2 separate regions of the Homo sapiens genome follow, and region 2 is linked to region 1. Evidence: fine-mapped expression QTL. A gene starts in region 1. The other region holds a variant in brackets. All regions are shown on one strand. Distances are between the middles of the regions. Region 1 holds the start of LRRK2 (leucine rich repeat kinase 2). Region 2 overlaps LOC105369736 (a long non-coding RNA gene).

The links. PIP is the estimated chance that this variant, and not a neighbour inherited with it, causes the effect. A credible set is the group of variants that fine-mapping cannot tell apart.
Region 2: its variant is the best candidate, but not a certain one, in a credible set for the expression of LRRK2 in gastroesophageal junction (GTEx, PIP 0.82).

The regions. Positions count from the first base shown.
Region 1 is chr12:40,222,808-40,228,194 of GRCh38, forward strand. LRRK2 (leucine rich repeat kinase 2) reads left to right here and starts at 2,190. Exons shown (of 51, transcript NM_198578.4): 1 at 2,190-2,475; 2 at 2,748-2,833. The coding sequence starts at 2,325. LRRK2-DT (LRRK2 divergent transcript) reads right to left here and starts at 1,015. Exons shown (of 9, transcript NR_186757.1): 1 at 852-1,015. It overlaps LINC01779 (long intergenic non-protein coding RNA 1779), which reads right to left and starts at 2,096. Exons shown (of 1, transcript NR_186584.1): 1 at 269-2,096. RefSeq lists a silencer at 1,956-2,315 and an enhancer at 3,514-3,603.
Region 2 is chr12:40,374,671-40,380,057 of GRCh38, forward strand. All of the region lies in intron 5 of LOC105369736 (a long non-coding RNA gene), which reads right to left. Among named protein-coding and RNA genes, the nearest start is that of MUC19, 16 kb to the right of the region's middle. The variant A/G (reference allele first, on the strand shown) is at 2,959.

The sequences.
Region 1 (5,387 bases):
CCTGCTTCCATCATAAATTCATGCCTTAATCTTCATTTTCAGTCTTGTTAACTACTTGAAGAGTTGATAAATCTTGGAATTTCAGTCAATCAATTAAACATTTTTGAAAACTAAGAGAATACTTTACCTTAACACTGCAGTAGTTCATGGGAGAATGCTCCCAACAAATAATTCATATTTTCACACTGTCTACTCACAGTCTGGCCAATATAGAGTAGATAATAAATAGGCAATAGATGGATGAATGAATTGTGGAAATTAGGAGACATCTTTTAATTTAGATTTATTTTTCTTTGGAAGGGAGGTAGGTTTTAATTTCTTGCAAGGTTGTAATTCAGTAGAACAGGAAGGGAGAAACTAATGCAGAGGAACAGAAGGAATGCATGAGATGGAGAATGCCTAGAAATGTTTGAGACATTGATTAAGTCATCAGAAATGGAAACAAGTTTAGAAACAACTTAGAAAATAATACACTGTAGGTCTGATAAATATTGTAAGATTGGGAGTTTTTTGTTAAATTATGGAAAATTTTATATAGATACAATAGTAGAACAGACCACATGAACCCATCTCATATTATCTTCAACAATTATCAATTCAAAAGTTGTTATCGTTATCTCTATCTCCACACATTTCATCTTTTCCTCCACCACTGGATGACTTTGAAAGAAATCCTAACCATTTCAACTATAAATATTTTAGCATGTCTCTGTAAAAGTTAAAGACTCTATAACAACAAGACATAGACCCAATATCCAGGTTGAGTAGGAGTTTGCTATCTTACTAATCTAATGTATTAACAAAGTCTAGAGCATTCTTATTAAAGTGGTAGAGCATGAAGAACCTTCTACCTGGAGTTAGGAGATTTGCTGGGTTGAAGTCCTGGCTCTCAACTTCCCACCTGTGTGACTCCAGCAAAGCTCTTCACTTCTCAATTCCAAATCTCAATTTCCTCACTAGTGAAAGAAGGATACATAGTAGTAGTTGTATCCATTTCAGAATTGTCATCAGGATTGAAGTAACAGATGTGAAAACAAAACTAAAATTGTGAAGTAGTAACTTCCAGTCCAATCCTCTTCTTTGTAAGTGATCTTGAGGACAGACACATCACCTGAAGGATAGATCATCTTTGCCTAGCCTTGTCTACAATGTTCTTGCTAGGTTTCTTTTCCTAAAAACACATTACTTAGGTACTTAACAGAACAAACAAACAAACAATCAAAAGACAAAACCAAAAAACTTTGGGGTTATAGACACCCATACTCATAAGTATTTCTGAATACCAAGAGAAGAGTATTTAGGTTTGCTTCTCTCAACTTTTCACCTTTCATTTCATGTACCCTGTCCTTTGTCTCAGCTCTAATAGCTCTGAGAGCTGATTACTTTTCGGGTGTCCCAAGTATCAGGATCCTGCCTAGTGCAACTCAAATTTCCAAAAGTTAATTTAGTGGCCTTTTGGTGACCAGAGCTTCAGATAACTCACAGGGAAACAATGTTTATTTCCTCTCCCACTAACAGTCACAAAAAATCATAAAAAAGAGTAGCGGGGGCAGTTTTGATGGCTAACCCCTCTTTCCATCCTTTGGGGGAAAATTGCTCATCTCCCTATAGGTGGAACTCTAAAGACAATGTATTCCTAAAAGGGGCCATCTGGGCGGTGTCCTCTTTTCCCAGCGCCCTGATTTCTATTCTTAGATCTGGAGATAGGCGGCTTTCATTTTTCCTGCTCCCAGTTCCCAGACCTTCCGTGGGGCCGCAGGATCCCCGGCTGGCGGGTCGCGGAGGGTGGCCGGCCGGGCTGCGCACTGCGCGCCTCCGCTGCGGGGCTCCGGGCCTGTGGACTCAGCGGAGTCCGCTGAGTCAGTTTCTTCCCGCGCGACTCCCGGCCGCGCCGCCGCTGCGGTGGAATCTGGTCCCAGGAGGCGGCGTCCGCCCGGGGTCCGGTCTAGGCGTGCGTGGGGGCCACGGTCACGGTCATCCCAGCCAGGCCCGGCTCCAGCAGCCCCACGGCCGCCGCCAGAGTTCTGCGCGGCCCGTCGCCTCGGCGGAGCCTCTGGCAGGCCCCTGAGCTCGTTTTTGGGGCCTGAGTGGGGGAGGAGGAAGCCGAGCAGGAGGGCTCCGGAGAGGGAGGGCAACGCGGGGCGGGGAGCTGCCTCCTTCCTCATAAACAGGCGGGCGTGGGCGCCGATGGGGCCCGCGGGGAGCGCTGGCTGCGGGCGGTGAGCTGAGCTCGCCCCCGGGGAGCTGTGGCCGGCGCCCCTGCCGGTTCCCTGAGCAGCGGACGTTCATGCTGGGAGGGCGGCGGGTTGGAAGCAGGTGCCACCATGGCTAGTGGCAGCTGTCAGGGGTGCGAAGAGGACGAGGAAACTCTGAAGAAGTTGATAGTCAGGCTGAACAATGTCCAGGAAGGAAAACAGATAGAAACGCTGGTCCAAATCCTGGAGGATCTGCTGGTGTTCACGTACTCCGAGCGCGGTAATCACTTGAAAATAAACTGTGCTTTTATTTTTGCAAACTTTCTCCCCCTCCTTACATTTGCAAATTTTGTCCTCCTCCCCTTGACCCTGCTCAAACCCGGACTCTTAAGGAGCCGCAAACTCCCATATCCTTTCCTTAGGGCAGAAAGCAGCTGAGAATTTCAGGAAGGTCTTCACCTTTTTGACTTTTCTCCCCGTTTCAGACTAAAAAGGAGAGGGGGTGCTGTGGATTGTGACTTTGCTTCTTTTCCCCACCCACTTGTTTTCCAGCCTCCAAGTTATTTCAAGGCAAAAATATCCATGTGCCTCTGTTGATCGTCTTGGACTCCTATATGAGAGTCGCGAGTGTGCAGCAGGTAAAGGCATTGTTTTCACTTCAACTCATTCTCCCTTCTGTTTGGAAGGAGACGTTTTACTGGCAATGTTAATATAGCCGAGAGTTCTTGGTTATTCCCAAAATTTGGCTTGAGGAACCTCTGACTGTGATTTTAAGATGGGAATATTGTTAAATCATTACGCAATGTAAACGGGATGAAGAGCCCCAGTATGTGTTCCCTGAGTGTCTTTAAGAAGTAACTTTATAAAACCAACAGTATGGATGGTGGTAGAAGGAGGATAAAAATGGGTTCGGTTTTAGTCTCGTTATTGGCAAGATGAATTCATTAGTGTTTAGACTTGACTATTCCAAGTATCTTCCCAATACAGAGCATGTCCTAGATGAGAAGATTATGAATAGTTTGGAAAAGGGGAATAATTAATAGTGATAAAATGCAACTTTGTCACTAGCAAACTCTTGTAGAGTTCAGCACTTTTTAAAATTCAAAGATTTCTAGCCTTTAGTTGTAGTATACCTTGTAGTATCTAAAGAAAGTGATGTCTTATGAGACCCTCATAGTTTGCAACTGTTGTCATATAAAATGCATGTAGAAGTGAAACTTTTACAATCTGTACCATAGGAAACCCAGAAATTTGCTATGTATCTTGGATTTTTTTTTAAAGGGGGCCTTAAAAATGGTAATTAAGAATGATTTACAGTCAAAACAAAATTATAGGCCAAGGTGATAACTTCCTTCGGAGCACTTAGAGATTTGGGGAACTGAAATCAGTTTTGTCATCTGCATGTTAACTCATGCAGAGAAAGAGAATTGGACTTTGAACTCCTTGGAGGTGCAGTCAGAAAGCCAATGTTTCTTAATGGTTGAGAGGCTTGACAGACATGAGGCATCTCAATCTTTAAAGTGGTGTGGGTCTATCTTTATCTTGATGTTTATCTCTGTATCTAGCTGTATCTAGTCTGGGTGAACCATCTAGCTTCTTTGATATGAGGACATTTACATCTGGAAGAAATATTTTAATTTGTTTTCAACTGTGAAATATTTTCCATCTGACTATTATAGATTTTCACGCTGCTATCAAACCAAACCAAGAAAAGATGGAGGCATAATAAAGATGCTGTTCTTTTAAGACTCAAAGTCGGAATTTTGCCTGTGGAATATGAGTCACTTTTTGGGCACTGGCCTATTGTGCTTCCTGCTCTGCACCCACGTCATCCCTTCTTACTTGTCTCTGCTTTGGTGTTCAGAAGTGCCTGATTCTGGCCACCTTCATTCCCTAGACTCTGTACTTGATAGAGTCACTCCTGCTTGATACTGCTCAGGACAGTCAGATCCTGGGTAGGCGTTTTGGTCTGCAGGGTCTAGATAAGGCAGTGCTATACTTGACAACCCAGGGGAGCCTGGAACATACTTCCTAATTCTTAATTTTAGAAATTGCCCAAGCCTGAGCATACTTGTCCGGAGTAGTTATGAGTGTCACTTAGTATTTCTGCCTAGAGAGTACCAGAGGCAAAGTATGCTGGAAAATAAGGAAGAGTTTTTTTAAAAGTAATTAATTACTTTTTTGGATATATCATAGTTGTATATATTTTGGGGATACATATGCTATTTGATACATGTATACAATGTGTAATGTTCAAATCAGGGTAACTGGAATATCCGTCACCTCGAACATTTTTCTTTGTGTTGGCAACGTTGCAATTTCTTTCTTCTAGCTATTTTAAAATATGCAATGAATTATTAACCATAATTTCCCTGCTATACTATTAAATATTAACTTAATTGCTTGTATCTAATTATATTTTTGTACACATTAACCACCTTCTCTTTATCCCTCCCCATCCTTTCATTTCCAGTCTCTGGTAACCACCATTCTACTCTCTTCCTCCATGAGATCCACCTTTTCCGCTCCTACATATGAGTGAGATTATGCAATATTTTATTTCTGTACCTGGCTTATTTAATTTAACCTAATGACCTCCAGTCCCACCCATGCTGTTGCAAATGACAGGATTTCATTTTTTATGACTGAATAATATTCCATTGTGTATGTATACCACATTTTCTTTTATTTTTAGTTAAGTAATTAATTTAGAGACAGGGTCTCACTCTGTTGCCCAGACTGGAGAGCAGTGGTGTGATCAAAGCTCACTGCAGGCCTGCAATCCTGGGCTGAAGTAGTCCTCCTGCCTCAGCCTCCCAGGTAGCTAGGACTATAAGCATGTGCCACCATGCTCAGCTAATTTTTTTTTCTTTTTTTACTTTTTGTAGAGATGGAGTCTTGCTATGTTGCCCAGGTTAGTTTCAAACTCCTGACCTCAAGTAATCCTCCTGCCTCGGCCTCCATATTTTCTTTGTTAATCTGTTGATAGACATATAAGGTGATTCTGTATTTTAACTATTGTGAACAGGGCTGCAATAAACATGGGAGTTCAGATATATCTTTGATATACTGATGTTCTTTTTTTGGATATATACCCAGCGATGAGATTACTGGATCATATGAAAATTCTCTTTTTAGTTTTTTAAGATACCTCCATACTGTGTTTCATCATGGCTGTGCTACTTTATATTC
Region 2 (5,387 bases), 150 kb after region 1:
CAAATTCACATCATGTATGTTATTTTTTTAAAAAAAATTACTGAAGCTTTTAATTAAATGAAAATTTTAGACAGAGAAGACCTCAAGCAAGGAAGTTTATCAGGGAAAAGAAGGGTGTTGTGTAATGATAGAAGTGTCTTTATACCCACGTAGACCAGTTGTTAGATGGGGGATGCCTGAAGAAGGCAGAGTGAGCTTGGGCATGGTCACATTTTCAGCAGAGGTATTTCTAGGAGAGGGCTGTAAGGTAAGTTGACAACCTTCCCAGTGGCTGGGGAAAATGAGTTCCTTCAGGTGTGGGTGGCACTGAACAGTATTTATGAAAGAAAACTCAATAAATAAATTAATAAATGCATGTGTAAATAATTGCCTTGGTGAAGGCATTTATTGATTCTAGTGAAATTGAGATGAGGTTTCAAAGGACTTAAGGTATATGTGGAATAGAAGACATAAAACGTGGAGATACTAATTACAGATTGACTCTTCAGTAAAAGCTGAAACCCAAAATAACTACAGTCGTGTGCTGCATAACGTGTTGGTCAATGATGGACTGCATATACAATGGTGGTACCATAAGATTATAATGAAGATGAAAAATTCCTGCCCCCTAGTGACATAGCATTGTAGCACAACGTGTAACTCACTTGCCTGTGGTGATGCTGGCATAAACAAACCTACTGTACTGCCAGTCGTATTAAAGTTTAGCACCTACAATTATGTGCATTACCTAAGACTTGATAATAAACGTGATATTACTGGTTTATATATTTACTACAGTATACTTTTAATCATTATTTTACAGTGTATTCTTTCTCTCTTTTTTTTGAGACAGGGTCTCATTCTGTCACCCAGGCTGGAGTGCAGTGGCGTGATCTCGGCTCACTGCAACCTCCACCTCCTGGGTTCAAGGGATTCTCCTGCCTCAGCCTCTTGAGTAACTGGATTTGCAAGCATGCACCACCATGTTCGACTAATTTTTGTATTTTTAGTAGAGATGGGGTTTCACCATGTTGGTTGGGCTGGCCTCAAACTCCTGACCTCAAGTGATCTGCCTGCCTCGACTCCCAAAATGCTGGGATTACAGACATGAGCCACCACACAGTGCCTGGCCTATTTTAGAGTGTACTTCATATATATATATATATATACACACACACACACACACACACATATAAATATATACACAGCTTCATTATAATCTTATGGGACCTCCATTGTATATGCAGTCCATCATTGACCAAAACATTATATATATATATATACACACACACACACATATATACACATATATATGTGTATATATATGTATATATATAGATATATAAAGTTAACTGTAAAACAGCCTCAGGCAGATCCTTCAGGAGTTGTCCCAGAAGGCAGTACTCTAGGCTATGGTTTGTGTTTGTGTTAGTTTTTAACCAAAAAGTTAAAAAAAAATTAAAATAGACAAAAGCTTATAGAATAAGAATCTAAGGAAAAATATTTTTACAGCTGTAAAATATGTTTCTGTTTTAAGCTAAGTGTTTTTACAAAAGAATCAAAAAGTTTTAAAATTAAAAAGTTTATAAAGAAAAAAGTTACGGTAAGCTAAGTTTAATTTATTATTTAAGGGGAAAAAAATAGGATGGGTGCAGTGGCTCACACTTCTAAGTCCAACACTTTGGGAGGCTTAGAAAAGAGGATTTCTTGAGTCCAGGAGTTCGTGACCAGCCTTGGCAACAAGGTGAAACCTCATCTCTACCGATAATGCAAGACATTAGCTGAGTGTGTTGGCACAGGCCTGTAGTCCCAGCTACTTGGGAGACTGAGGTGGGAGGACTGCTTATGGCCAGGAGGTGAAGGGCAAAGGTTGCAGTGAACTGTGATTGTGACTCCAGCCTGGATGACAGAGCAGGACTCTGTCTCCAAAAATAAAAATGGAAAGAAAAAAGAAAAAAAATTGTTTTAAAATACATTTAGTGTAACCTAAGTATACAATGTTTATAAGGCCTACAGTAGTGTACAATAATTTCCTAGGCCTTCACATTCACTCACCACTCACTCACCGACTCACCCAGAGCAACTTTCAGTTCTGCAAGCTCCATTTATGGTAAGTGCCCTATACTGGCGTACCATATTTAATCTTTGATATCATATTTTTACTGTACCTTTTCTATGTTTAGATATGCTTAGACACACAAATACCAGTGTGTTACAATTGCGTATAGTATTCAGTACAGTAACACGCTGTATTGATTTGCAGCTTAGGAGCAAAAGCTTATTCCATATAGCCTAAGTGTGTAGTAACTTATACCTTCTAGATTTGTGTAAGTACGCTCTATGATCTTTGCACAAAGATGGATTTGCCTAATGACACATTTCTCAGAAAGTGCCCTTGTTGTTAAGTGATGCATAACTGCTATTCTTAGAATGGTAGACCAGATTTCACCCATGCCACACTTTTACAGTCCCTCACTGCACAAAGTAAAATAGTCTTGGTGTTGAGCATAGCAAGGTGGTAAGAAAAGCATCTGAGTCATTGTAACTCTGAAGTCACAAGAGATTTACAGGTCAAATTTATATCACAGATGTTTCTAAAAACATTGAGAGGTTTATTATTGAAAGTAGTTCCATTAGTAGTTAGGTGCCTGGGATAAGAAAATCTAAATCTTCTCTAATGAAATATATATTTATCCTATTAATATTTCTCAAATAATATGCTTTCTAAAGACAATAAGCAGTGTACAATGTACAGTTCAAATAAATGAAGCTTAAGAGAAAAATGACGACGTGAAAGAGATGCTTCAGGATCAACTAAGAGCAGAAAAAAAACAGCTAAGAGTCCAAATACCAGAAGGTGAAACATAGGATCTGAAATAAAGACACATTTGAACATTTCTTCAGCGGGCAGGAAGCTATAAATATGATTAAGGGGATTTGAAAAAGAGTCAAGTAGAACTTCTAAAAAGAAAAAATATA[A/G]TATGTATAATTTAAAATATCATATATGGAGTTCATAGCATTTTAGATACAGATGAAGGAAAAATTAATTAACTGGAAGATAAGGCAAAAAGGATTTTCTAGAATGCAACATGGACAGAAACAGAGATGAACAATGTAAACCAAATAGTCAAGACTCTTCAAGGTGGAGTAATAATGTCTAACTTATGTCTGATTGGAATGCCAGAGAAGGGGAATATAGAGGAGAAATATGTTTGAAGAGATAATGACTAGGATATAACTAGAACTGATGAAAGATACCAATTTGCATACATACAAGAAACTGAGACTCCAAATAAAGATAAATTAGGACATCCCCACATTGACACACTAAAGTGAAAATGCAGAAAATAAAAAGAAAAGGCATGGATGACTCCCACAAAAAATGTTGGGTGAGAGAAACACAATGCAAAGAATTTATATAGTATGCTTCCATTCACATAAAATTAAAAATCAAAACTGAACTCGATTGTTTAAGGATGTATAAATATAAGTGGTAAAATTATAAGGTAAGTAAGAAAATGAAAAATAGAAACATTAAGAGAGTGGTTATTTCTATAAAGAAGGGAAAGAATTACAATTGAGAAGTAGGCAGGTAGAGGATTCTGAGATGCTGGAAAATGTTCTATTTCCTGACCTAGCTGGTGGGTAAATGGGTATTTCTTGTATAATAATTCCTTAAAATATAATTTTATGTTTTACATATTTATTTAGTACATTATGTCTCTAAATTTAAAGATGAAACAAACTAATTTACTTTCACTGAATGAACTAAAATTGTCCTGAAAACATTTGATAATACATTTCCCAAATGTCTGAGCTTCTCATCTCAGTTTTAGTTGTTGATTTTCTCCAGCCTGTCAACTAGAGCATATGGTTTAATAAATATAAATGATTCACAGATAATGAAAAAAGCCATTCATTTCCACTTAACATTGCTACATCATGCCTTTTCAGTTTTAACATCAAAATTAAGACTATACATTCAATAAAATTGTGAGATTTTAAGCTTAGATTGTTGGGTACAGAGATATACTGAGAAGTAAAGAAGAGCAGCAGGTCTGGTGCAGATAATTATTTAAAGTTTGACATATGTATTTAAACTTCTTATAAAACATACAGATGGAAATATTCAATAGATGGTTGTGAATACTGATCCAAAACTCAGAAGAGACTGGGGGGTCAGAAGCAGATTTGTAAGTCATCTGTTGAGAGGCCATCTGTATTTGTTTGCTAGGACTGCCAAAACCACAGACTGGATGGCTTAAACACTGAAATTTATTTTGGCTAGAAGTCTGAGATCAAGGTATTGGCAGTGTTGGCTCCTTCTGAGGGTTGTAAGGGAACTATTGTTCCAGGCCTCTCTCCTTGGCTTGTAGGTGGCTGTCTTCTTCCTGTGTCTTCACATCGTCTTCCCCCTGCACCTGTCTTTGTCCAGACTTTCTCTTCTTATAAGGCACCAATCTATTGGATTAGGGTTCACCCTAATGGCCTTACTTTAATTTAATTATTTCCTTAAAGATCCTATCCACAAACAGGGTTATATTCTGAGGTACTAGGGATTACGACTTCAACATAGGAATTTTTTCAATGTACAAGGAAATTTAGCCCATAACACTATCAATTAAAACCTGAGACAAGATGACCTGGCCAATGTGCAGAGCACATTGAGAAAAGAGAGCTCTGAAAAAAGCCATATTCAGAAGAGTTAGAAGAGGACAGAGGCTGAGAAGGAGATAGTTTAAAGAGATAATCAGTGAAGTAAAAAATGGCAGAACATTCAATGAGGATCTATCTGGACTTAGTAAAGCAAATGAACTTGATGAAGCTATACGTGGTGACCACTGATAGAACAGAGTTTACAGAGTGGGAAGGAGTGGAAGGCTGAATGAAGTGCATAAAGGAGTACATCTAAAAAGGCACAATGAGAATGGAAAGACAGTAATGAATGTTAAGAAGTAGAAGAGGAGATGTAGAAAGAAGGAGCTGATATAATAACTGTGTGGGTGATTGTGCAGGACAAATGATAGAGTGACCATTAAAATATGGCTTATGATTGAGCACAAGAAATCATTTCAATGATACAAATGCAGACAGAAGACGCAGGTATAGAACTTTTGTCAGGAATACAGCTTACTATAGAGACCTATTTACCAGGGGAAGGCCAGTGTTCAAATTCCTCTTAAAATGTTATTAAGGGGAGTTCATATGACAACTGCAAGTATCAATACCACCATAATATTCTATTCAGAACACTGACAAAATTTCTCATGTATGCTTTTTTAAAATCACTATCCGAAAGTCCATTCCAACATTGTGAGTTTCTTCTGCATACTAAATACTACTCTAGGAAAATGCTGAAAAGTTAAATTGGAGGAGATAAATCACTTTAGAAAATTATTTATTGTTTA